Homo sapiens: one gene and its partners. The protein of the gene in region 3 purifies or fractionates together with the protein of the main gene of each other region. This does not show direct contact. Each region holds a gene or a part of one and is shown on either strand. Other genes may lie near its edges.

The links.
Region 1: the proteins of ZNF460 (region 3) and ZMYM4 purify together in Homo sapiens (co-immunoprecipitation; 2 studies listed by BioGRID and IntAct, with this or other methods). This does not show direct contact.
Region 2: the proteins of ZNF460 (region 3) and ZBTB10 purify together in Homo sapiens (co-immunoprecipitation; 2 studies listed by BioGRID and IntAct, with this or other methods). This does not show direct contact.
Region 4: the proteins of ZNF460 (region 3) and SMARCAD1 purify together in Homo sapiens (affinity purification with mass spectrometry; 2 studies listed by BioGRID and IntAct, with this or other methods). This does not show direct contact.

What each region holds. Positions count from the first base shown.
Region 1 is NC_000001.11:35,383,669-35,390,708, reverse strand, and holds part of ZMYM4 (zinc finger MYM-type protein 4), read right to left. Parts: intron 5,268-7,040; coding exon 5,117-5,267; intron 4,636-5,116; coding exon 4,520-4,635; intron 3,707-4,519; coding exon 3,431-3,706; intron 3,256-3,430; coding exon 3,105-3,255; intron 1,800-3,104; coding exon 1,627-1,799; intron 762-1,626; coding exon 611-761; intron 1-610. UniProt on the Homo sapiens protein: Plays a role in the regulation of cell morphology and cytoskeletal organization.
Region 2 is NC_000008.11:80,524,216-80,526,795, reverse strand, and holds the end of ZBTB10 (zinc finger and BTB domain-containing protein 10), read right to left. Parts: 3' UTR 531-2,580; downstream 1-530. UniProt on the Homo sapiens protein: May be involved in transcriptional regulation.
Region 3 is NC_000019.10:57,275,941-57,283,492, forward strand, and holds the start of ZNF460 (zinc finger protein 460), read left to right. Parts: upstream 1-4,544; 5' UTR 4,545-4,866; coding exon 4,867-4,896; intron 4,897-7,552. UniProt on the Homo sapiens protein: May be involved in transcriptional regulation.
Region 4 is NC_000004.12:94,210,858-94,217,897, reverse strand, and holds part of SMARCAD1 (SWI/SNF-related matrix-associated actin-dependent regulator of chromatin subfamily A containing DEAD/H box 1), read right to left. Parts: intron 4,864-7,040; exon of another isoform or gene 4,746-4,863; intron 4,161-4,745; exon of another isoform or gene 4,128-4,160; intron 1-4,127. UniProt on the Homo sapiens protein: DNA helicase that possesses intrinsic ATP-dependent nucleosome-remodeling activity and is both required for DNA repair and heterochromatin organization.

The DNA of each region.
Region 1 (7,040 bases), on a different chromosome or scaffold from region 3:
TCTATTTAATCAAAAACTCATTTTTACTCAGCTTTAATCTAAGGTGTCAGGCCTCTGAGCCCAAGCTAAGCCATCATATCCCCTCTGACCTGCAGGTACACATCCAGATGGCCGGTTCCTGCCTTAACTGATGACATTCCAACACAAAAGAAGTGAAAATGGCCTGTTCCTGCCTTAACTGATGACATTACCTTGTGAAATTCCTTTTCCTGGCTCATCCTGGCTCAAAAAGCTCCCCCACTGAGCACTTTGTGACCCCCACTCCTGCTCGCCAGAGAACAACCCCCCTTTTTCCTTTACCTACCCAAATCTTATAAAACGGCCCCACCCCATCTCCCTTCACTGACTCTTTTCAGACTCAGACCGCCTGCACCCAGGTGAAATAAACAGCCTTGTTGCTCACACAAAGCCTGTTTGGTGGTCTCTTCACACGGACGACAGTGAAATAAGGTGTTCAACAAAAAAAGCTAAATGTTATTGATACAGAATACAAGGAAACTGAGGTTTCATGAAATTAATGACAACTGTTTACACAGTTCCTGATCTGTAAAAGAACAGTAGTTCCTAGTATTGACCAAAGACTCCATTCAGTACCTAAGGTTAATTTTACCTGCATTATTTTGTGAAGGCGGGTCACATACACTTTGCTGATTACAGAACATCAAGATACAAAGCAGGTTACAGAAATGTTTCATTTCCCCTCGCCATTTCAAGGACTCACTGAGTTTACCCTGTCGCTTACAAGCATCACATTTGGCCATCTAAAAAGAAGAAGGTAGTCAAGGAGTAAGAAACAAATTATCTGTGGTCTGACAAAATAAAAATAAGACACACATAACAAGTGACGAAATTAACTTAGAATTTAGATCAAAAAATTAGTTTGTCTTTATCAATGATTATACACACACACACACACACACACACACATATATATATATATTTTTTTTTTTTTTTGAGACAGAGCCTTGCTCTATCGCCCAGGCTGGAGTGCAGTGGCGTGATCTCAGCTCACTGCAAGCTCCACCTCCTGGGTTCATGCAATTCTCCTGCCTCAGCCTCCCAGGTAGCTGGGACTACAGGCGCCCGCCACCACACCCAGCTAATTTTTTTGTATTTTTAGTAGAGACGGGGTTTCACCATGTTAGCCAGGATGGTCTCGATCTCCTAACCTCATGATCCACCCGCCTCGGCCTCCCAAAGTGCTGGGATTACAGGCGTGAGCCACCGCGCCCAGCTGATTTTATACTAATTTTTTTTAAAAAACACATGTAACATACAGACTTCACTCTATAGCAATTAAAAAACAAAGTGAAATAAAAATAAGGTCTATCTTCCTCAGACTTCAGAAGACAAATTCACTTTATTTAAATAATAAGTGAATAAAATTATAAGTTTAAATATTTTAATGTCTTAAGACTGATATGTCTCCTACAGGAAATTAAAAACAAAAGAAAACTTCAATAACATTAAAGTCTTTCTAAATCTTATATTAATTGCTAGAAGGCATAAAACATTTAATACTTAAAAGTTTTAAATAATTAAATTGTCCTTTATGTGACATGAAATTTTAAAAGGGAATAATTTATGCCCTAGAATGAAAAACCCAGGAATGTGAATTCTATTTACCTGATAGAACAAAACTGTATATTTGGACATGCATTCTTCACAACAGAACTCTTCCACTTTCCCTCCTAAATTATTCTGTACCAATTTGGGAGATGTCTGTAAACAATAACTGCACATTTTACAGTGATTTCCCCAGCGTTTTGCCAAGTCATGTTTATAAAGCAATTTGCAACCTAAAAATCAGGAAAGATAAAATTAACATTAGGTAGAAGTATTAGTTTTCTGCAACTTTAAATGGCCTAGGACAGGCCCGGTGCAGTGGCTCACACCTGTAATCCCAACACTTTGGGAGGCTGGCGGGAGGAGTGCTTGAGCCCAGGAGTTTGAGACCAGCCTGGGCAACATGGCAAGACCCCATGTCAAATAAAAACAAAAACAAAAAAAAGAAAAATAAGTGGTCTAGGACAAAGTTTTCACACTTGGGTCCTGACCAGTTCACAGAGTATCTTGATTTTTTAGAGTATCTATACTAGTTTTTGTTTTGCTTTGTTTTTGTTTTTGTTTTAAATGATATAAGACAGGATAGCACAGAAGAGAAAATATTAAACTGCATCGATTTTATTTCATGAAACTTTTGGGGCTGGGCGTAGTGGCTCACACCTGTAATCCCAGCACTCTGGGAGGCCAAAGTGGGTGGATCACCTGAGGTCAGGAGTTGGAGACCAGCCTGGCCAACATGGTGAAGCCCTGTCTCTACTAAAAATACAAAAATTAGCCAGGTGTGGTGGCGGGTGCCTGTAGTCCCAGCTACTCGGGAGGTTGAGGCAGGAGAATCGCTTGAACCCAGGAGGCAGAGGTTGCAGTGAGCCAAGATCGCTCCATGGCATTCCAGCCTGGGTGACAAAGCAAGACTCTGTCTCAAAAAACAAAAACAAAAACAAAAAAAACTTTTATTTAGGTATGTGAAAATATACTGGGTCACAGTGTAAATGTATTTCTTCTTTGGTGTTATCAAAAGGTTTGAAAGCCCTTGCTCTAGAAGGCTAATACAGCTTTAGAGTAAAATAAAACATTATAAACATATAGAAGAGTTATCTAAGGAAAACAATCTTCCACATATTAATTTGCATATTCAAGCCATTTATATTCAGAAATATAATGGCTGTTTAAGACAATAAAAGTATAAACTTAGAATGTTACCATAATTTAAGGCATCCCATTTAGAAATAAGTACACGAACTAGAAGCTCTTTGAGGTCCCGATCAACCTAATAATGGGGAACCTAAGGATGTTAAATGTTTTTCACATCATCTTCTTCTGCATTATACTTTGCAAATCTTTCACTTCATTTTAACAGCTACATAATATAAGAAAACTAGATCAAAAAAGAATGAACTAAGTGTAAATGAATCGAAAAGGCATTTACGTTATACATAAACAATAAAACAGATTAACTTAGACAGTGAAAGCTTAAATCATCATCAACTGCTTTAAAACAACCAACATGCTCAGTAGGTAAGATAATCTTCTGTCTTTACCTTCACTACAGAATGACTTGTCAGCACCTGAGAACCGAACAGTCTCCTTTACAATTTTCTCAATTTTACAATATTCACACATTGCCATTACATTATTTATTTTCTTATATTCATCAGAACAATTCTTGCCACAGAACTGAAACATTTTGCCCTGCAAAGAAATAATCATTAAGTACTAATTAAACATTTGGTTTGTCTTATGGAACTCCTTATCTCCCTTACTTTCAAAACAAATGGTATGATTTTGAGAGATGCAAAGTTAAAAATAATTTTACAAATAGACCCACGTATACTCAAAATCTTATCATGAACATGCTATACTTTACCTTATAGTCAAGAAGTTCTGGTTTTGTGGCAAAAAGACGGTTACAGTGTTGACATTTGAGTTTCACAACACTTCGTGCAAACCCAACATGCTGGGACTGGGCAGCGAGACGCTGGAGACCAGCTGCAGCAGAGCTACTGATGGAGGTGGGAGAAACAGCAGATGTGCTACCTCCTCCGGCTGACACTGTGGAACCTGTGGGGATGCTTACAATTACTTGGCCCTGAGACAAGGGCACTACTGAAGAATTCATTCCAGTTGGTTTGTTGAATAAATTCTGGAAAAACAAAACAACAAAAAGTATCAATTTAATCTTTGTTAAAACAAAGAAGTATTGTGTGCCTACATATGCCAAGCACCGTTCTAGGCATGTAAGGTACATCTGTTAACAGGCAATGTTCCTGCCTCTGAGCAGCTTATTACGGAATGGGGGGAGTCTCATTTATGATGAAAAAATAAAATAACTTAACTAATAATCTTCCTCAAAAATAATATCCTCCCAATAGATAATATGGGTGATAAAAGTACCATTCAATTTTATAGAAGGCAGTTAAATTAAATTCCAAATACAGAATGAACTACAAATCCAAGTTTAATAGGAATGATATAGAAACTTATACAACCCAGGCCCTAGCAAACACCTAATAAATGTGCATTACTATAGTAGGTGATAGGTTTGAATTCGTGTCCCTGCCCAAATCTCATGTCCAGTCGGTAATCCCCAATGTTGGGGGAGGAGCCTGGCAGGAAGTGACTGGATCATGGGGGTGGATTTCTCCCCTGCTGTTCTGGTGATAGTGAGTTCTCACTATCTGGTTGTTTAAAAGTGTAGCACCTCCCGCTTCTCTCTCTTCCTCTTGAGCCCATCATGTAAGACGTGCCGGCTTCCCCTTCGCCTTCCGCCATAATTGAAAGTTTCCTGAGGCCTCTCCAGCCATGCTACCTGTACAGCCTGTGGAACTGTGAGCCAATTAAACCTCTTTCTTTATAAATTACCCAGTCTAGGGTATTTCTTTAGAGGAGTGCAAGAACAGACTCATACAGTAGGTGACTCACTGACTGAAGAAGAGGAAGGTTCCTGAAGCCATACCTGGAAAGCTACCACACAGCTGTAGCTGCAGAAGTTGCGTATACTTCCATCTGACATGGCTAGGTGATACTGAGGAATTGCTGAGGTTTTACAACTGTTACACTGAACTTGTACACCTTAGCAAATCAAAATAAAAACCAATGAGTAATATGTACAAATGTACACAAAAGTATGAGAAATTAAATAATACTATACAATATAAGAAAATTTAAGAGCCAGGGTAAGTTGTAGGAACTGAAACTAAATCATGTCACATATAGACAAAAACTAACATAATACTGAAAATGTTTCTTTCCAATTTAAATTGGTCAAAGTCTACCCTGAAACTACCAGATAAATGAAACTTCAAAGAAATTAGGTAGGGAAAAAGAAAATATATTAAAGAAGCCATATGAAATTCTTTTGGTAAGGGGGAAATGCATAAATAGGTATGCAAGTAAATAAATAAGCAATCAAGGTAACAGGTGATATTTTACAACAAATATCTGAAATATGTTAAATGTGCCTTAAAAATCAACCAAAAAAAACCGTTAAAAACAAAGCAATAACCATTATTTTTCAACCATTGCATTTCATAGTTTGTGAAACCAATATTACCTGCAGAAGTAACCATTTTAACTCTGTAAGCAGATAAGCAATTAACAGAACAGAAAAGCTCTGTCTTCCCCAAGCTATTGGTATTTTCAATCATTTCTGCTGAGGATCTCAATGATTTGCAAAGCGCACACGGTGTAATTTTGGCTGATTTCTATTAAGAGAATAAAACAACATTCATTTTTAACAAATTCCTAGTAAAAGCATAATTCTTCGAAATGTTTATACTCAACACTTTTGAAATATTTGAAATCAGTGATTTTCAAACTTTTATGATTGTAATCCTCAATAGGAAGTTTCATGGTACACATGTACTTCTGAGATTTTGCATTTGTGTATGATGCATGTATGTAATAAAACTAAAAAGTTTTATAGAGGAATAAATATCATGATAACATGTAATGCACTTTGATATTTTCCAATCTATTCTATTTCATTGAAAAAGTAATGCGGCCAGGCGTAGTGGCTCACCCCTATAATCCCAGCACATCGGGAGGCCGAGGTGGGTGGATCACCTGAGGTCAGGAGTTCAAGACCAGCAAGGTCAACATGGTGAAACCCTGCCTCTACAAAAATACAAAAAAAATTAGCCAGGCATAGTGGCAGGCGCCTGTAGTCCCAGCTATTCAGGAGGCTGAGGCAGGAGAATGGCGTGAACCAGGAGGCAGAGCTTGCAGCGAGCTGAGATCGTGCCACTGCACTCCAGCCTGGCGACAGAATGAGAAGATTCCACCTCAAAAAAAAAAAAAAAAAAGAAAAAGAAAAAAATAATAATGCTGGTTATAACCTAGTAATTAATTTCAGGGTCTATTAATAGGTCATAACCACAGTTTTAAAAACATTAAATAACAGCAAGTTCATGCTTTTATACTATATCATCCTATAAATTGAAATAACCCCCTCCAAAGGTGCTTGTAAATATGAATTTAAGGAAATTAGTAACCTTATTAGGCAACTTATTGGCAAATATTCTACCACTAATAATAAAAAAAATACTCCATAAGCGTAAAGTAAGAGCAAACCTGGGATATCATCACAGGTGTCCAAATACAAACAACCAGAGTCCGTTATCTTAAGTCTTCACCCAATTAGGGATTCAGCAGCAAATAATGCTAAGTATTATTAACATGTCACACATTCAGGATAATTTTTAAAGTACGTCCAGCACCAATTAGGAGATTTTAAGAGCAATCTTCCTTCTTAAAGAATCAATTTGTAAAACTTGATATTAAAATAAATACACAGTAAAGTGAATATATGCCTGAATTCTGGAATGTCTTCTAAATCTCTAACCCCATTTCCCTCTCCTCCCTAATGAGGACTGTAAAAGCAAACCTCATTTGTAAGACCCAGATCAAGAGTTACCTCTGTGAAGCTTCTGCTGATAGTCTCATCTTTCCCTATCAAGTAGAGCTCACTATGCTACCTCTGTGGCCCACTGTACCCATAATACTTCCATCATAGCATCTCTATTTACTCATTTATACGTCTTATCTTTCTCAGGAGACAGGCAGCCCCTCAAAACAGAAATTATATCTAATGTTTGTTGAATGAATTATATATAAGGAAGAAAGGAAGGTAGCAGAAATGACCATCTACAATGCCTCAGTTACATACTAGGCATTCTTTCATTCTTACTTTCTATAATCCTAAAAACATCCCAGTGACATAGGTGGTATCATAGTTATTTACAGACAGAAAAACTGGGACTCAGGGAGCTTAACTGCTTTCCCCAAGGTAAAACTGTATTTGAACATAAGGTCTAGAATTAAATGTAGATCTGCCTTACTTCTAAATTCCAGTTCTTTCTCTACCACAGCAGATATAATACATGAAAAATTTAATAGGTTTTGACTAAATTAAAAGTAAAGAATAAATTTAAAATTAAGATGTTTCATCCTATTTCTCCCTCTCTTGTGGACTATCA
Region 2 (2,580 bases), on a different chromosome or scaffold from region 3:
AAGATTTTAATAAAAACATATTTACGCCTATGAAATAATAAAACGTATAACTTTTAGGCAAATATAAGACTAACAAAAACATACCTACATATGTAAAATTCTAGACTTCACCTTAGGTAAAGTCCTAAAATAACTTCTTCAAATTTCCTTTGCCTAATGAGGATATGGCCCAGGACTAGTACTCTGGGATGCTGATTCAATTCCTACATTTGCTATTATTTGGAATTGGCACATTTTATTAATGATTTAGGTGACAAGTACTTGAAAAATTAGTGTGGGAAGATCTGCTTTGGAGAATTACCCATGTCTGTACATAAATGCCATAATCCTAATTATCTGGATTATTAGGAATCCAGATGCTACAAATATCCAAGGAGACTACTTGGAAACAGGGGACAGGTTGACAAGAGATGCTAAGCTTCACATTACCTTTTACATGAATATGTCTTTCATACGGTAAAATATAAATGCCAAAACCCAACATACCTCTTTACAAATACAAAAATCATGTTGGCAACTAAAACATTAGGTCATTTTAAAATACCTTTATTGATGTATTATTGCACTCTACATCAAAACTCCAACAGGGCTTTTCTTCTAGTTTTTTCACGTATAGACCGAATGTTGGGCATTTAAATGTTAGTGGTGTATATGCCAGACATTTTAAAACAAATACTTTGCAGCAAATGGCTAATAATTCTAAGTGTTCTGTTATGGAGACGGTTTAAAAAAAAAATCACAAAGGCTACTTTTGCATTGAGATTTCCATAGTAACATTTGCAGTAGGTTGGATTTGGTCATTACATCTTGCAGTAACATTATCTACTAGGGTTATGTATCCAGGGAAAGGATCCCAAAGGCTCAGTGTGACACCACGTATCATATGCTTGGCAACACAAAATAACTAAACGAAACTGGCTTGATAGCTACATGCCATATGATACTAATAGGCAAAATCCTTAAAGTTGCTAGTGCCTTTTGTCACTCACTTAGTAAATACTTTTGATCAACAAGCTATGTGCCAAATACTATTTGAGTGTACTCTGGAATCTTCTAACTTCAAACTTATCCCTAATCTCAAGTATTTATTGAATGAGTTTGGTACAGAAAAATAATACTGAAATTGAAGTTCAGGAGTCCTGGGTCCTAAAACTGACTGGAGTCACTGTAGCAACCTCTCTGGGTATGCTTCATTAGTCTCTTACAGTCTCTTTCAACCTAAATAATTCTACAATAATCCTGAAACCATCTTATGTATTATCTCACCAACTGTTAGGACCTGCGCCAAGAAGACTGTCTTGTGTTTATCTTTCACCAAGATTCTAACACATACCTACTTACACTTGGAAGATTAGCTTTTTCTTATTGCCAAATTTAAGACTGGCCGTGGTGGGAAAAAATCATCTGGCTGACAGTAAGGCGGCAGTATTAATAGCAGGTAAGGCGCCATGCAGTTATGGAATCTGTAATATTTTTCATTCACTTTAATTAGCTGAATAGATTTCTATAGTTCACTTTCTTTCTTTAAACTTCAGAAAGACAGTTATGTCATAGCCTAAATTCTGAAGTACCTTTAGTTTTCTTACCTAAACATAGATCCAATAATTCAATTTCCTACACCTGCTCCCAAACACTGGTCTGCGGTGATTTGTGGTGAAAAAGAAAGAAGTTCAGATAGTGACTTTTTCTATTAAGCCAAACTTGGTGTCTAAATTCTTAATTTCCTAAATTATGTCCTTTTTAGTGTCAAAACATCCTTCGTCCAGTACTTATACATACCAAATTTTATCATTTTAGTGTTTGTTGACTAAGCAAAATAAAAAGCAACTACAAGGGTCCCAACACCTAAAAAAAACTAAGCACAAATCCAACTCTGAAATAGAAATGTCTGGTCAATACTGCCTTTGTCAAAATGATTAAGTAATCTCTTTCACTTTTCATAGCGTTATCTCCAGTGGTAGACCTTTTTCTGAAGCAGCCCCATTTCATCTTTGGATAATTAAAAACCGATTTTCAATCTTGAGCCAATGGTCCCAATCATGACCCCTTAGAAACATATAAAGTTTCTTAATTCTTCTGCCTCATGATAGCTCTTTACATGTTTAAAGATACTAGGCATTATAATGCTATGTGGGCTCCCCTTTATTGTGCCCTTCTCCAAACAAAATCAACAAACTCCTGTTTTTCTAAGTCAAGTCTGAATATCTGGCCAGTTCTGATTTCCTTTGCTCTATTACTAACTTTGAAATAACCTAAAAAGCTAGTTATGTTTTCTCTACATTAATAAAGTTTCAAAGACTTCAAATTTATAACATCACATCACTTGTAGTCAATCAGTCCACAAATATACAACATGGGATGAAGCAGTTTACCTTTGCTTTTCAACCCATTTCCAAGATTATGCACAAATGTAAATTACAGGGAATTTTTAATATTTTCTAAAACCTGTAGAGAATCTTAAAAGATACACTGATTACAAATCACTGCTATTAATTAAAGCAGGATTACTTGGAGGTAGTCTGTCATTTATGTACTTTCATATAAAAACATACAAATAAACAAAAAACCCTTATAGTATTC
Region 3 (7,552 bases):
CCTCAGCCTCCCGAGTAGCTGGGGCTATAGGCACCCGCCACCACGCCCAGCTAATTTTTTTGTATTTTTAGTAGAGACGGGGTTTCACCATGTTGGCCAGGCTGGTCTCGAATTCCTGACCTCAGGTGATCTGCCCTCCTTGGCCTTCCAGAGTGTTGGGATTACAGGCGTGAGCCACCACACCTGGCCTATCCACTTTTAATTAAGCTAACTTTTAACCATAGTGCTCTTTAAAAAAGAAATCCTTTCAAATCTCTTATTACCCAACTTTAGCCATGCCAAGAAGCCAATATTTCTAACTTCTGAACTTTACCAAAGGTTATCTCCTACGTGCATAGAGAAAGGAAAATTTAAGACAGTCTGCGGAGGAGAAGAGACTAGACAAGGTCACGCAGATATTAAACCAGAAATGACTTACTTCCTAGGTGGGGTATCAAACCCAAACTGCCACTGTGAAAGTGCAGAAACCTTAGTTACTGAGCTACAGTGTGGGACGGTGCCTACTTCCTTTCACAGAAGCCTAGAGTAGTTAATTTTGAGCTTGCAAAGGCTTTTAACTATTTTATATGATTTTTAGAGCTGACTATGACATGAACCCTAAAATTCCTTTTCCCTAGTAGGTGGAGACCAAGAGAAGGTACTGCCACATGGTTAAAAGGTCAGGCTCCCAAGGACATAAAACAAGGGGAGACTTCATCCTGTTTGTTTGTTTCAGGGACCTGCAGCTGTTTGTTACTGACCAGTTTGCTGGGTCATGTTGAAAAGTGGGCTCACAGGTGTTCTAAGCCCATGTTTCATCCTACAGAAAAACAAATTCACAGCACAAAATACACCAGTTTGACTAGCTTAGAATTCTTTTTCATATTAATCAAAACTTTACAGAGGAGATACACACTGATTTATTATTTTTATTATTGTTATTATTTTTACCATTCATTCAACCGTTTGCACAGAGAGGGAGAAGTCAGAAATCTGACTGGTAACAAATTCTTACCTTTTTGCTGGCATGCCAGGCTTCTGTGTTCCCTTTCTCTGAGTGGTCCCAGTGATCTGGCTTGTGGCACCATCGCCCTGGGGGCCAAGCCTCATTGTAAAGGAAAACTACTTTTTTTCATTCTGACCAGAGCAAAACACATGTGATGAAACATACACATTAGCCACTCTGCTTAGCACCCAATATTAAACTGGCAAGGCTTAAATTTGCCCCCAGATAGGCCCTGTCATCTTTAATCCAACCTCTGACTTGGAGTTTCAACATGTGGTCTCTGGGCAAGATGGTCGCCCTGAGTAATAGAGTAATAGAAAAGATAAGAAAGGGGCCGGGCGCAGTGGCTCACGCCTGTAATCCCAGCACTTCAGGAGGCCGAGGCGGGCAGATCACAAGGTCAGGAGATCGAGACCATCCTGGCTAAGATGGTGAAACCCCGTCTCTACTAAAAATACAAAAAATTAGCCGGGCATGGTTGCAAGCGCCTGTAGTCCCAGCTACTCGGGAGGCTGAGGCAGGAGAATGGCCTGAACCCGGGAGGTGGAGCTTGCAGTGAGCAGAGATAGCGCCACTGCACTCCAGCCTGGGCGACAGAGCGAGACTCCGTCTCAAAAAAAAAAAAAAAATTATATATGGAAATGCTTTCGCAGGCAATACTTTCCCAGGAAATATTTTCCACAAGCAATACTTTCCCAGGGAAGGCAAAATGATCAGGGAGGCCAGAGAAAGACCCACCCATTGCAGTGACACTGAAAAGTTCAGGCGGCTACGGCTGCTGTCGTGAAGGGATTTTTTTCCAGCAGTCCCGTCAGCTCTCAAGTTTCCCCTTTTGGGGGAGGAAAAAGCTCCCCATGTCCCACGATCCTGTACACGCCTAACCCTGTCGCCCGGAGCCATCAGCAAAGAGTGCAAGGCAGATTAATCCAAAGACAATAGCAGTTAACATCCCACGGTGCCAAACCTCTTCTTAGCCAAGAGGGACTTTACTGAGAGGGGTCTCTAACCCCCTAAATCTTAGAAGGGACTCTAATCCTCCTAAGTTGGGCCTCTAACCCAAGGTCAGTCAAGCGTCCTTGCCTTTTATTAAGAGGGGCCTCTAATCCACTCTGCCTTAGGAGAGACTCTAACTCCCCTAACTTGAGCGTCTATCCCAATCCCATTCTTTACCTGGGTACCCCACCACTTACCCAAAGTCATCCAATCAGTGCTGCAGTCTATTTCCTTTGAGTCAGGGGGGTCTCCTCAGCATTGTCCCTTTTGTGGTTTGCGAGAAAAGTGTTACCCGACCCCACCACTTACCCAAAGTTAGCCTTTGGGTCACGGGTTCCTGCAGTATAGTCTCTTCTGTAGTGGCCAGGAATGTGTTACAGGAAAGGGGTCCCAATCCATATCCCAAGAGAGGGTTCTTGGATCTCGCACAAGAAATAATTCAGGGCGAGTCCACAGTGCAAGTGAAAGCAAGTTTATTAAGAAAGTAAAGGAATAAAGAATGGCTACTCCATAGACAGAGCAGCCCCAAGGGTTGCTGGGTGCCCATGTTTATGGTTATTTCTTAGTGACTTGCTAAACAAGGGGTGGATTGTTCATGCCTCCCCTTTTCAGACCACATAGGGTAACTCCCTGACATTGCCATGGCATTTGTAAACTGTCGTGGCACTGATGGGAGTGTAGCAGTGAGGAAGACCAGAGGTCACTCTTGTCACCATTTTGGTTTTGGTGGTTTTGGCCAGCTCCTTTACTGCAACCTGTTTTATCAGCAAGGTCTTTATGATCCGTATTTTGTGCTGACCTCCTATCTCATCCTGTGACTCAGAATGCCTTAACTGTCTGGGAATGCAGCCTAGTAGGTTTTAGCTTCATTTTACCCAGCTCCTATTTAAGATAGAGTTGCTCTGGTTCATATGCCTCTGAAAAAACCATTTAAATTTAATTATAAGAGTCTGGCCAGAGGGGGTGGCTCACGTCTGTAATCCTAGCACTTTGGGAGGCCGAGGTGGGTGGATCACCTGAGGTCGGGAGTTTGAGACCAGCCTGAACAACATGGAAGAACCCTGTCTCTACTAAAAATATAAAATTAGCCAGGCGTGGTGGCGCACACCTGTAATCCCAGCTACTCAGGAGGCTGAGGCAGGAGAATCGCTTGAACCCGGGAGGCGGAGGTTGCAGTGAGTGGAGACTGTGCCACTGCTCTCCAGCCTGGGCAACAAGAGTGAAACTCCATCTCAAAAAAAAAAAAAAAAAAAAAAAATTTAAGAGTCACAAATATGTGAAAAAGAGAATGATGTCTTTATCAATTTTCAAAAATTACTATTGCCAGTGATGAATAACAGTGTTCCTTGCACACTAATTTAGCCAAAAATATTTCTCCAAAAGTACCGCATCGTGTAGGAAATTGACTCCATCTCCATTCCTTGACTATTTTCAATCTCAAAATTAAATCTCTTGGAGAGTACTTTCTGCACACCTTTCTATTTCCTTAACCATATATATCGTCAAACCATTGAAAGCTGGACTTTATTCTCTCACTTTCATAGTCATGAAAAGAAAAAAAAAAAGTTACTGATGGGGACTCCTAAGACTTCGCATAATATAATCTTTGCATAGTCTAGGATTGTTAAAATTCCTAACAAGACTTTATAAACTCTCCTGTCTGCAACCAGTTAATGCTGGGTTGGGCCAGGGTTCCCCTCTTTCCCGTCACTTATCCATCTACGCTCATTCTTTTCATAGCCTCACCCAATATCATGACTTGAAGTAACAGTTTACAGTAATAACTCCCAAATTTATATATCCACGCTCGAACCCTCTGCCAATGTTGAATCATAGGTTGAGTATATGGCACTACGCTTTGTGGTCTTACTGACGTTTCAAACTGATCATGCTTGAAATGGGAGTACTGGGCTTCCCGGCAAGCCTGCTCCACTAGCAGCCTCCCCACCTCAGGGTACGGGAAGTCCACACGTGGCGAACGCGAAGCCTATTACATCACCCGGAAGTCCCTGCATCCTACGAAGGCTGGGCCCGGCCAAAGGAGGCCCAATAGAGGGCGGTCTGTCCTTTCCCAGCAGGCTGGGCACACTGTCAGGCGTCCTCCTTTGGGTGGCTATTTTAACTGCTCATTTATCCTTTTCTTCTATGAAAAGATCCAGAAAAGAGGCAAAGCAAGCGAGAAGTCGCGGGCCCAGCCCACAGCAGGGTAAGCACCTTTGTTCGGGGTCTGAATCGGGGCGAATATCCCCGCCTCCTGACCTCGATTTTCCTGAGCTAGAAGGGACCTTTCGACCCTCCGACTTGTGCCTATACTAAGGCGGTGGCCCTAAGACGACGCGGGGGTTCTGGTGCGCACTTACGTGCAGTCGGATGCGCTGGGTGAGTTCCCACACCCGGTAGATGTAAGGGAAAAACTGCATTACCCAGAAGGCACTGCCCCTTGCGTCGGCCGCGGACTCTGGGCCATTGACGACCCAGGACAGGAGAGTTTTCTGCGGGCCAGGGCGGCGGAGGCGGGACTTCCGCTTCTTCGTGTGACGTCATCTCCGTGGGCCGGTTTGGCCCTGAAACAGTGTGGGGCCTAGAGCGCTGGGTGGGCGCGTTCTGCGGCCTGAGCAGGGACGGGTAGTGAAGCGGTTACGCCCCTTCTTCGCGTCTTGGCGGGAGCCTGACGCCCCGCTTCTCCCCTAACGAGGTGTCCCACCGGCGCCCGCCGAGGCCTAGGCCTCCGCAGCCGCCCTCCGTCTCCTCAGCCCCGACGCTGCGCCTTGGGCCTTGTGCGCATTTTTTTCGGGGGAAAACTGAGGCTCGGAGTGCGAAAGTCAGCCGAGGTCGCCCCGCCCAGGACAGAGAAGGGCTGTGGTCGGCTGATCCGCGGCATTCCCGGGATGGCGGCGGCGTGGATGGCTCCGGCGCAGGTGAGTGGACGAGGTTTCGGCCTTGCTGCTGCTGTGCTATTTCTAGAGGCCTCGTGGGCAGGCTGGAAGCCAAGACAGCCACAGGATTTTTCTTTGTCGCCATCGTTTATTTAAGAGAAATGGCCGTGGCTTGTCATTTCCTTTATCCGCAGTCCTGCAACAGTGTTGGCCTCTGATAGGTGTTCAGTCCGTGGTTGAAGGAGTGATGCTTCCTTCTAGGGATCTCATCACACTTCCCCTAAATCCAACCTTCTCTGTTGCCTGCCAGCCCGTACCCCATCCACCTGGCCAACCACCCCTGACCTTGTCTGTTTGCATTTTTCCCTGGTCCTTTGCTCTTCAGAGCCACCAACCTGACCGTGCAGTCCTCTTCCATTTTCCAGGCTTTCTCCTTGCACTTCCTTTTACTTCGAACACTGCCCCTGTAACTTTGCAGGGCCTCCCTTTCACATCCTTTTGGCATCTGTCCAGGTGTCACCTATTTGGAGGTGCCTTTTTTGGCAATTCCGGCTAAAGTGGCACCTTACACCCTTGCCCAGAGTCTGGTATTTTTGTGTAGATAATCTGATGGTATTAAAGAAGCTTGTGGATTTGAGTTTGTCAAGGATGTAATGGGAACAAAGAAAAATAATTGCAAAGAATGATATTAACTGTCATTGAGTCCTTGCTGTGGGCTGATCGGTGAGTATTATTTAACCCTCAGTTCGTTTAACCCTGAAATTTTTTTTTTTTTTTTTTTTTTTTTTTGAGACGGAGTCTTGTTCTGTCGCCCAGGCTGGAGTGCAGTGGCGTGACCTCGGCTCACTGCAACCTCCGCCTTTTGGGTTCAAGCGATTCTCCTGCCTCAGCCTCCTGAGTAGCTGGGACTACAGGTGTGCGCCACCACGCCTGGCTAATTTTTGTATTTTTAGTAGAGACGGGGTTTTACCGTGTTGGCCACGCTGGTCTTGAACTCCTGACCTCAGGTGATCCACCCATCTGGGTCTCCCAAAGTGCTGGGATTACTCTTTAGAATTAGGTTCTGTTGTCATCATTGTTTTACACAAGAGCAATTTGAGGGTCACATACGTCCAATTACCTGCCTTACATCACTGTAGCTCTTAAGTTTCTTAAGTCAGAAACTAACAACTGGTGTGTCTAACATCATAGCCTGTGTTTTTACCCTCTTCTTTACCCGCAGTGGTTAGGGAGGCCTGGGGGTGAGACCTAAAGTAACCTTTGCAAGATGAGGCCTCCTTCTAGCCAGTGATCTTGGGCATGAGGAGTCATGGCCTTTCATACTGGTGGAACTGTGTAGACTTAAAAAATGGTATATTGGTTGTTTAAGGAGTTCTCAGGGGACCTGTGTGGCTTCCACGGTGGTTTTATATGTGGTTCCCCTTACTCCCTTACCTGCTGACATATTCTGAGAGGGCACGTTTGTATGGTTATGTTGCTGAATGTACCCTCCTACTCAGCCAGGATAGATGTAATCTCCAGATGGGCCCATATTGTCTTGGCTACAACCTGCTGTGCCCTCTATGACTCTTGTTGCTTGCTCATGGAATCTTCTGGCCTCAGGGATGCCTGCTAGTAGGACTTAGGTAGAAAAGGAAGCGATGGCTCATTGTGAATTCTCCCTGGAAGCAGGTCCAGGCCCTAACACCTGATCAGGTGTCACCACGTCAGGTGATTCTTTGGTGAGGTGGATGATGATGACTACACTTCTCTGCCCTTGTCCATGGGAGTGGCTGAAATGTATATGTGGATTTGAAATGCTTCATTCTCATTAACTGCATTAACTTTGCTAATAGAGAAATGTCAGGTTACATAATCAGACCAGAGGGCCCTGGGCTTAAATCCTGCCTCTGTTGATAAGACCTGTGACTTTGGGCTGGGCTTGGTGGCTCACACCTGTAAACCCTGCACTTTGGGAGGCTGAGGTAGGTGGACTGCTTGAGCCCAGGAGTTCAAGACCAGCCTGGGCAACATGGGAAAACCCTGTCTCTACAAAAAGTACAAAAAATTAGACCGGCATGGCATCATGTGCCTGTAGTCCCAGCTGTGCAGGAGGCTGAGGTGGGAGGATCACTAGATCACAGGAGGTCAGGGTTGCAGTGAGCCGACATTGTGCCACTGCATTCCAGCCTGGGTGACAGAGTGAGACCATCTAAAAAAAAAAAAAAGAGAGAGACATGAACACATGAGACTTTGGGTAGACTGGTAGAGCGGAGGGTAGGACTGAGGCCCAGGTCTCAGGTCCCTGAGTGTGACATAGAGATGATGATGGTAAATTCAGATGCTGTGGCCTTTGCCTCAGTGTTTGTTTGTTTTTTTTTTTTTTTACAAACAGTTTTTCTTTCTTTCTTTGTTTTGATGGAGTCTAGCTCTGTTGCCAGGCTGGAGTTCAGTGGTGCGATCTCGGCTCACTGCAACCATCGCCTCCGACGTTCAAGCGATTCTCCTGCTTCAGCCTCCCGAGTAGCTAGGACTACAGGCACACACTACCACACCCAGCTAATTTTTGTATTTTTAGTAGAGATGGGGTTTCACCTTGCTAGCCAGGATGGTCTCAATTTCCTGACCTCATGATCTGCTCACCTCAGCCTCCGAAACTGCTGGGATTACAGGCATGAGTCACCGTGCCCAGCCTACAAACAGTTTTTCTTTAGTTCTT
Region 4 (7,040 bases), on a different chromosome or scaffold from region 3:
AGCTCTTACTATAAGCAATACACTTTGATAATTTTCTATTTGTTCTACTCCATTAAAAATTGTAGTTATACATATTTAGTCAGGACCCAAGAAATTGATTTTATGACACAATAAATGTTTATGATCCAGTTTGAAAAACAAAGATATAATAAAACTCATCTATTATTCGACATATAATTAAATCTGTACTTAGATTATGTTTTCTTTCCAAGCACCCTTGAATTTTTACAGAAATTAAATATTAGGCCACAAAGAAAATCTGAGTTAATTTCCCCCAAAGAAGAAATACTACAGACCACATTCTCTGGTCACAAAACAGTGAAATTAGAAGTAAATGTTAACAAAAATATGCAAGCAAAATTTCTGCCAGTTGGAAATTTTTTAAAAAGAGACAAAACCTCATAAAAATGGCTTCTAAACAACTTTCAGGTCAAAGAGAAAACAACAACAACAAAAACACATCAAAATCTAGGATACATCATATATATGACACTATAAAAATTAAAATAATCTGGTAAATTAAGATTAGAGGAACAGATTAACAGACCCAAAGATGCAAACAAACATGGGAATTTTAGACTATAATGATGACATTTTAATGTAAGAAAAAGGATTTTTCAATAAATGAAAAACTGACTAGTAACTGGTGAATAATGAACAAAGGAGAAAACGATATCACCCTTTCTTTAGTCCCTATAATGAAATAAAATTCAGAGGAGATTTAAAGTTAAAAATCAACACGAAACCCAAAGTGAGATACAAACTCATGTCCATTATGTTGGCTATTATCAAAAACACAGGAAATAACAAGGTTGGAGAGGATGTGGAGAAACTGGAACCCACCACACTGTTGGCAGAAATGTAAAATGGTGGAGCACCTATGGAAAACGGTATGGAGGTTCCGCAAAAAATTAAAAATAGAATTACTATATGATCCAGCAATACCACTTCTGGGTATACAACCAAAAGAACTGAAAGCAGGGTTTCAAAGAGAATATTTACACATTCATGTTTACTGCAATACAATTCAAACAGCCAAGATGTGGAGGCAATCCAAGTGCCCATTGATGGATGAATGGATAAACAAAATGTGTATATACACACAGTGAAATATTATTCAGTCTTAAAAAGGAAGGAAATTCTGATATATGCTACAACATGGATGGATCCTGGGGATGTTATGCTAAGTGATGATTCCACTTTAATGAGATACTTAGAATAGTCAAATTCATAAAAAGACAACGTAAACGGTAGTTGCCGGGGGCTGGGGGAATCAGAAATGAGGAGTAGTTGTTCAATGCATAAAGAGTTTCAGTTTCACAAGATGAAAAGAGTGCTGGAGAATAGTTGCATGACAATGTATATGTATTGAACTGAATGTACTGAACTGTACACTTAAAAATGGTTGAGATGGTAAATTTTCTTATGTGTATTTTATCATAATTTTTAAAATTAACAGACATACTAGAGGAAAATATGAATGAGTATATTTATAGTGTGGTAATGCGGAATGCAGAAGACTTAGAGGAAAGGATGAACAAGGTGACCACATAAAAATCTAAAATTTTTCTATGGCAAACAACAAAGGGGGTGCTATGGTCTGTTTGTGCCCCACTCCCCAAAACGGTATGTTGAAATCTTAACCATTATGGTAATGGTATTAGGAGGTGACATTTGCTGGAGGGAGGAAGGGGTATTAGGTGATGGGGGCAGAGCACTCATGAATGGGATTAGTGCCCTTATAAAAGAGGCCCAAGAGACCCCTCACTCATTCAGCCACATGGGGTTAAAAGATTGTGGTCTAGGAATAGGGCCCTGAGATACCTAATCTTGCAGCACCTTGATTTTGGACTTCCCAGCCTCCAGAATTGCCAAGAGTAGATTTCTATTGCTTATAAGCTACCCGGTTCATGGTAGTTACAGCAGTTCTAACAGACTAAGACACGTGGAATTTAAGATATACTTACAAATAATTTATCGGAGAGACATGTATTAGAAAAACAGAAAAGCATAAAGAAACACAAAAAATCCAAATGGCTAGTAAATTTATGAAAACATACTTAAACTAAAAAATAAAGAAAAAGCAACAATAACATACTTTTGCCTATTAGCTTATTAAAGATAATAAAGGTCTGCAATATTTTAGACAGGTATGAAAAAGCAGACATCAAAACCAAGATGTAGTCTGATACAAACTAGTGAAATTTGTGTGTAGGGTGAAGTGACAATGACTAAAATAATATTTCTATCCCCCTCCTCCCCCCCACCCCCCTTTTTGGGACAGAATCTCACTCTGTTGCCCAGGCTGGAATGTAGTGTAGTGATCACAGCTTACCATAACCTCAAACTCCTGGGCTCAATCAATTCTTCTGTCTCAACCTCCCAAGTGGCTAGGACTACAGGTGCACACCACCACACCTGACTAATTTTTTCATTTTTTGTAGAGACAGGGTCTCACTACATTGCCCAAGCTGGTCTTGAACTCCTGGTCTCAAGCAATCCTCCTGCCTCGGCCTCCCAAAGTGCTGCGACTCTACAGGCATGAGCCACTGTGCCCAGCCAAATACATGCACATTTAAAATGCACTTAAGATTCCTACTTACTTTTGAGTACTTATTGTACTTTCTGTTACAACAATTCAGCACTAACCCTTTAACTAAGTATTGCTTTTCAATTAACATTAACAGACATTAAGAAACCACAATGACTATCTACAGGTTTAACGATGGCTCACATTTTGGCCACAGACACCTACAAAAAGACTGAGTATTGCGCAATGGTCACGGAATTATGAAGCTAAAATGATACATTCAGTATCATCATTCAAAGGATAATAACCATTTTAATGTGGGCAAGGAATACAGAAAACTAAGCAAAGCCAGGAGAAGACTGTAAGACCCAAACAGTTGACTTTTTACTCAAGATCATACAATCTGTATGTGGCAGAGCAATACTCTCAGGAAATCTTTCTGACGACTGGTATAGTTTTAAAAATGTCTCTCACTTATCAACAAGTGCTACTTTCAATATGACAACCACCTTGAAAAGGCAACCACTCTAGAGGACTAAATCTATTTCAGCAAAAAAAAAAAAATTCATCAAACATATACTAAAACTTTCCTCCATTCCGCCAATGCCAAAATAATCTATGAACCCATCTATTTTTATCTCCTTCAATTATCCCCCCCAGGGAAAATATGTCTTTATTCTTTTGCACAGTTAAACAGTCCAACTGTTCTTCAGTTCTCATCACTTGATGCCTCTCTTCAGATACCTCCCTCCCTCAGTCCTTCCCTCTCCACTAGCTTCTTGTCCTTGGTTAACAAACGCTTGGCCAGGTGCGGTGGCTCATGCCTGTAATCCCAGCACTTTAGGAGGCCGAGGCGGGCAGATCTCAAGTCAGGAGATTGAGACCATCCTGGCTAATACGGTGAAACCGGGTCTCTACTAAAAATACAAAAAAAAAAAATTAGCCCGGCGTGGTGGCGGGCACCTGTAGTCCCAGCTACTCAGGAGGCTGAAGCAGAAGAATGGCATGAACCCGAGAGCAGAGATTGCAGTGAGTTGAGATTGCGCCACTGCACTCCAGCCTGGGTGACAGAGTGAAACTGTCTCAAAAAAAAAAAAAAAAACAAAAGAACGCTCAATTTTCAATAATCCTGAAACATATTTTCTTGACATTACTTCCCAATCAGGTTACCTATTTCTCTCTTTCCTTTCCTGAATGAATAATCTCTATCTCATCACCATTCTACTGAAACTGTTAAAGGTTAGTAGTTACTTTTAATTCCAAGGAAACTGGTCACTGATCAGTCCCCACTCAACTTGACTTCTCTACAGGATTTGTTACTAGACAACTAAATACCAAACTAGGTATTTAGGTATCCAGGACACTATCATTTTCTATGACTATTCTAGTCATCCTTCAAATTTTTCATTGGTTTTCCTGCCCATTGTCAAATGATGTTTTTTATTGTACACCCTGCTTAGGACATTGATGAGTCCCAAGTTCTAGGGTTTAGACCACTCTCTGAGCTCTAATATTCAACCATCTACTACCTTGGTACTAAAATAGGATGGGTAATGCAAACACAACATAATTTTTAGTATCTTTCTCCTAAACTCACCTCTTAATTCAGTCCATGGTGTCAATCCTCCAGCTGTCCAAGCAAGGAACATTTGAGTTATCTGTAAATCCTCCACATTCAACTGATCACCTAATATCATCAAATGCGTATCATTTACAACTCCCCTCAGTTGCCTCCTCTGTCATCTCTACAGTCATTTCCCTACATTGAGGCTTCAATGAATACAACAGCTTCACTAATAGCATTTCCATAATGAAATGCTCTATGATGTGTACCAAATAAGATCTACCGTCCCTGACACAGGATATAAAGGCCCCTCACAACCCAATGGTTTACACTTCTATCTTTTCAGTTTCATCTATATTGTCTAAAACCTCCTGTTCTATAATCTGCCCCCAACCCTCCACACACATATTAGACTCTTGGAGGCAACATATATTTTCAACTCTCTCATCATTTGTTCACCCAGTAAACAATGATTTCATTGTTTAGAGTCCACTCCAAAGGTCATATCTCTGTGACTTTTTGTGATCCTCCCCTGAAGAATGGATAATTCAATCATTTGTGAATTACAGATAGTGATTCTACTTTGCTTAGTATTTTGCCCTATTATATGGTTTTATCACACCATACTATTTTAACTATATATTTACATACCATTTTCTCCTGGTGCTCTTGGAGGATCAGGCTTCACTCATTTTTATTCTTTATTCATAAAATATAGTAGGATCTCTCTTCCCTTTCACCTGCCATTATTTCAATCCCTCCAAACTCACTGTACTCCCAAAAGTCAAAGAAAAAAAGGAGAAATAATGTGTAAATAACAATCATTGACAACTTTGGGCACCGAGAAGAGTAAAATAAATCAGGGGGCAGAGGTTAAGTGTATGCCCTCAAATCCAAAGGCTGGCTGGGATTTAGAGGGGCATTAGGGAGGATGTCCTGTACCAAAAGAAGCTTCAAGCAACCATGGCCAAAGAACACCTGATGGCTAAAGGGACTATTTTAAGGTCCTATTTTAAAATAAAGGTGTGGTGGCTCATGTCTGTAATCCCAGCACTTTGGGAGGCCAAGGCAGGCAGATAGCCTGAAGTCAGGAGTTTGAGACTAGCCTGGCTAACATGGTGAAACCCTGTCTCTACTAAAAATACAAAAATTAGCCGGCTGTGGTGGTGTGCACCTGTAGTCTCAGCTACTTGGGAGGCTGAGGCAGGAGAATTGCTTGAACCCAGGAGGCAGAGGTTGCAGTGAGCCGAGATTGTGCCACTGCACTCCAGCCTAGGTAACAGAGCAAGACTCCATCTCAAAAAAATAATAATAAATAAATATGTATAGGGCTGGGCGTGGTGGCTCATGCCTATAATCCTAGCACTTTCAGAGGCCAAGGCACGTGGATCACTTGACGTCAGGAGTTTGACACTAGCCTGGTCAACATAGCGAAATGCCGTCTCTACAGAAAATACAAAAATTAGCCGGGCATGGTGGCATGAGCCTGTAGTCGCAGCTCCTCGGGAGGCTGAGGTATGAGAATCACTTGAACCCAGGAGGTAGAGGTTGCAGTGAGCCAAGATTCTGCCACTGCACTCTAGCCTGGGCCACACAGTGAGATTGTCTAAAAACAAATAAATAATAAATAAATTTTAAAAAATGTATAAAGTACTAATAATGCCCACTCATCATGCAATAATATTTACTTCAATGCACTTATTGAGGGCCTACGACAAGCCAGTCGTTGCCCTGAACAATGGAGATAAATAGGTGAACACAACAGATAAGGTCCTGCTCTCATGAATCATATGTTCTAACAAGGGAGTCACAACTATATAATGTAATGTTAGCTAGTGATACACAACTACATAATGAAAGGTTAGCTAGTGATAAATACTATGAAGAAAAATAACAGTAAAGCTGGGGTAGGGTGGGCTGGGGTGGGTGGCTATTTCACAGGGTGATCAAGGAAGGTCTTCTTAAAAAGGTGACATTTTACTGAGATTTAATGAAACAAAGCATCTGAGTCATATGCAAATATCAGCAGGAAGAGTCTTCCAGGCAAAAAAGCAAATTGGAAGAAGCAAAGATGGGACCTTGCTTGAAAGATTCAAGAAACAATGTGGTGGTGGCACAGTAACTGAAGGAGGGTCATAGGAAATGAAGTCAACTCACTAGATAAAATAACAGGATTAGTCAAAAAGAGTGATTACAGGTAATTTTGACTACATACAATTTCTGTCCTGTAAGCTGACTTAGTTTGACCTGACACTTTACTGTAAATAAACTAACGCAGCATTATCCCACAATGGGAGTATGAAAAGTTACCACATGATAAAGAAGTAAGGTCAATAGTCACATCCTATTTATAATTCACCAATTTTCATCTCCAGTCCTGACCTTAAAATCTAACTTCAGTATCTTGTCCTCTCCAGAGATCCAACACTCAATTCTGAATCCCCACTTCCTCAGCAATCCCTAGACCCCAGGCTAAATTAGCACTTGGGGGCAGGACCTTTGATTTTTATTCTTATTTATTTATTTATTTTGACATGGAGTTTTGCTCTTGTTGCCCAGGCTGGAGTGCAATGGCACAATCTCGGCTCACTGCAACCTCCACCTCCAGGGTTCAAGTGATTCTCCTGCTTCAGCCTCCCGAGTAGCTGGGATTACAGGCATGTACCACCATGCCCAGCTAATTTTATATTTTTAGTAGAAACGGGGTTTCTCCATGTTGGTCAGGCTGGTCTTGAACTTCCAACCTCAGCTGATCAGCCCGCCTCAGCCTCCCAAAGTGCTGGGATTACAGGGGTGATCCACTGTGCCCAGCCAGACCTTCGATTCTTATTTGAATTCTTAAAGACATTTACCTTTTTTTTTTTTTTTTTTTTTGAGATACAGTCTCTGTCCCCCAGGCTGGAGTGCAGTGGTGTGATCTAGGCTCACTGCAACCTCTGCCTCCCA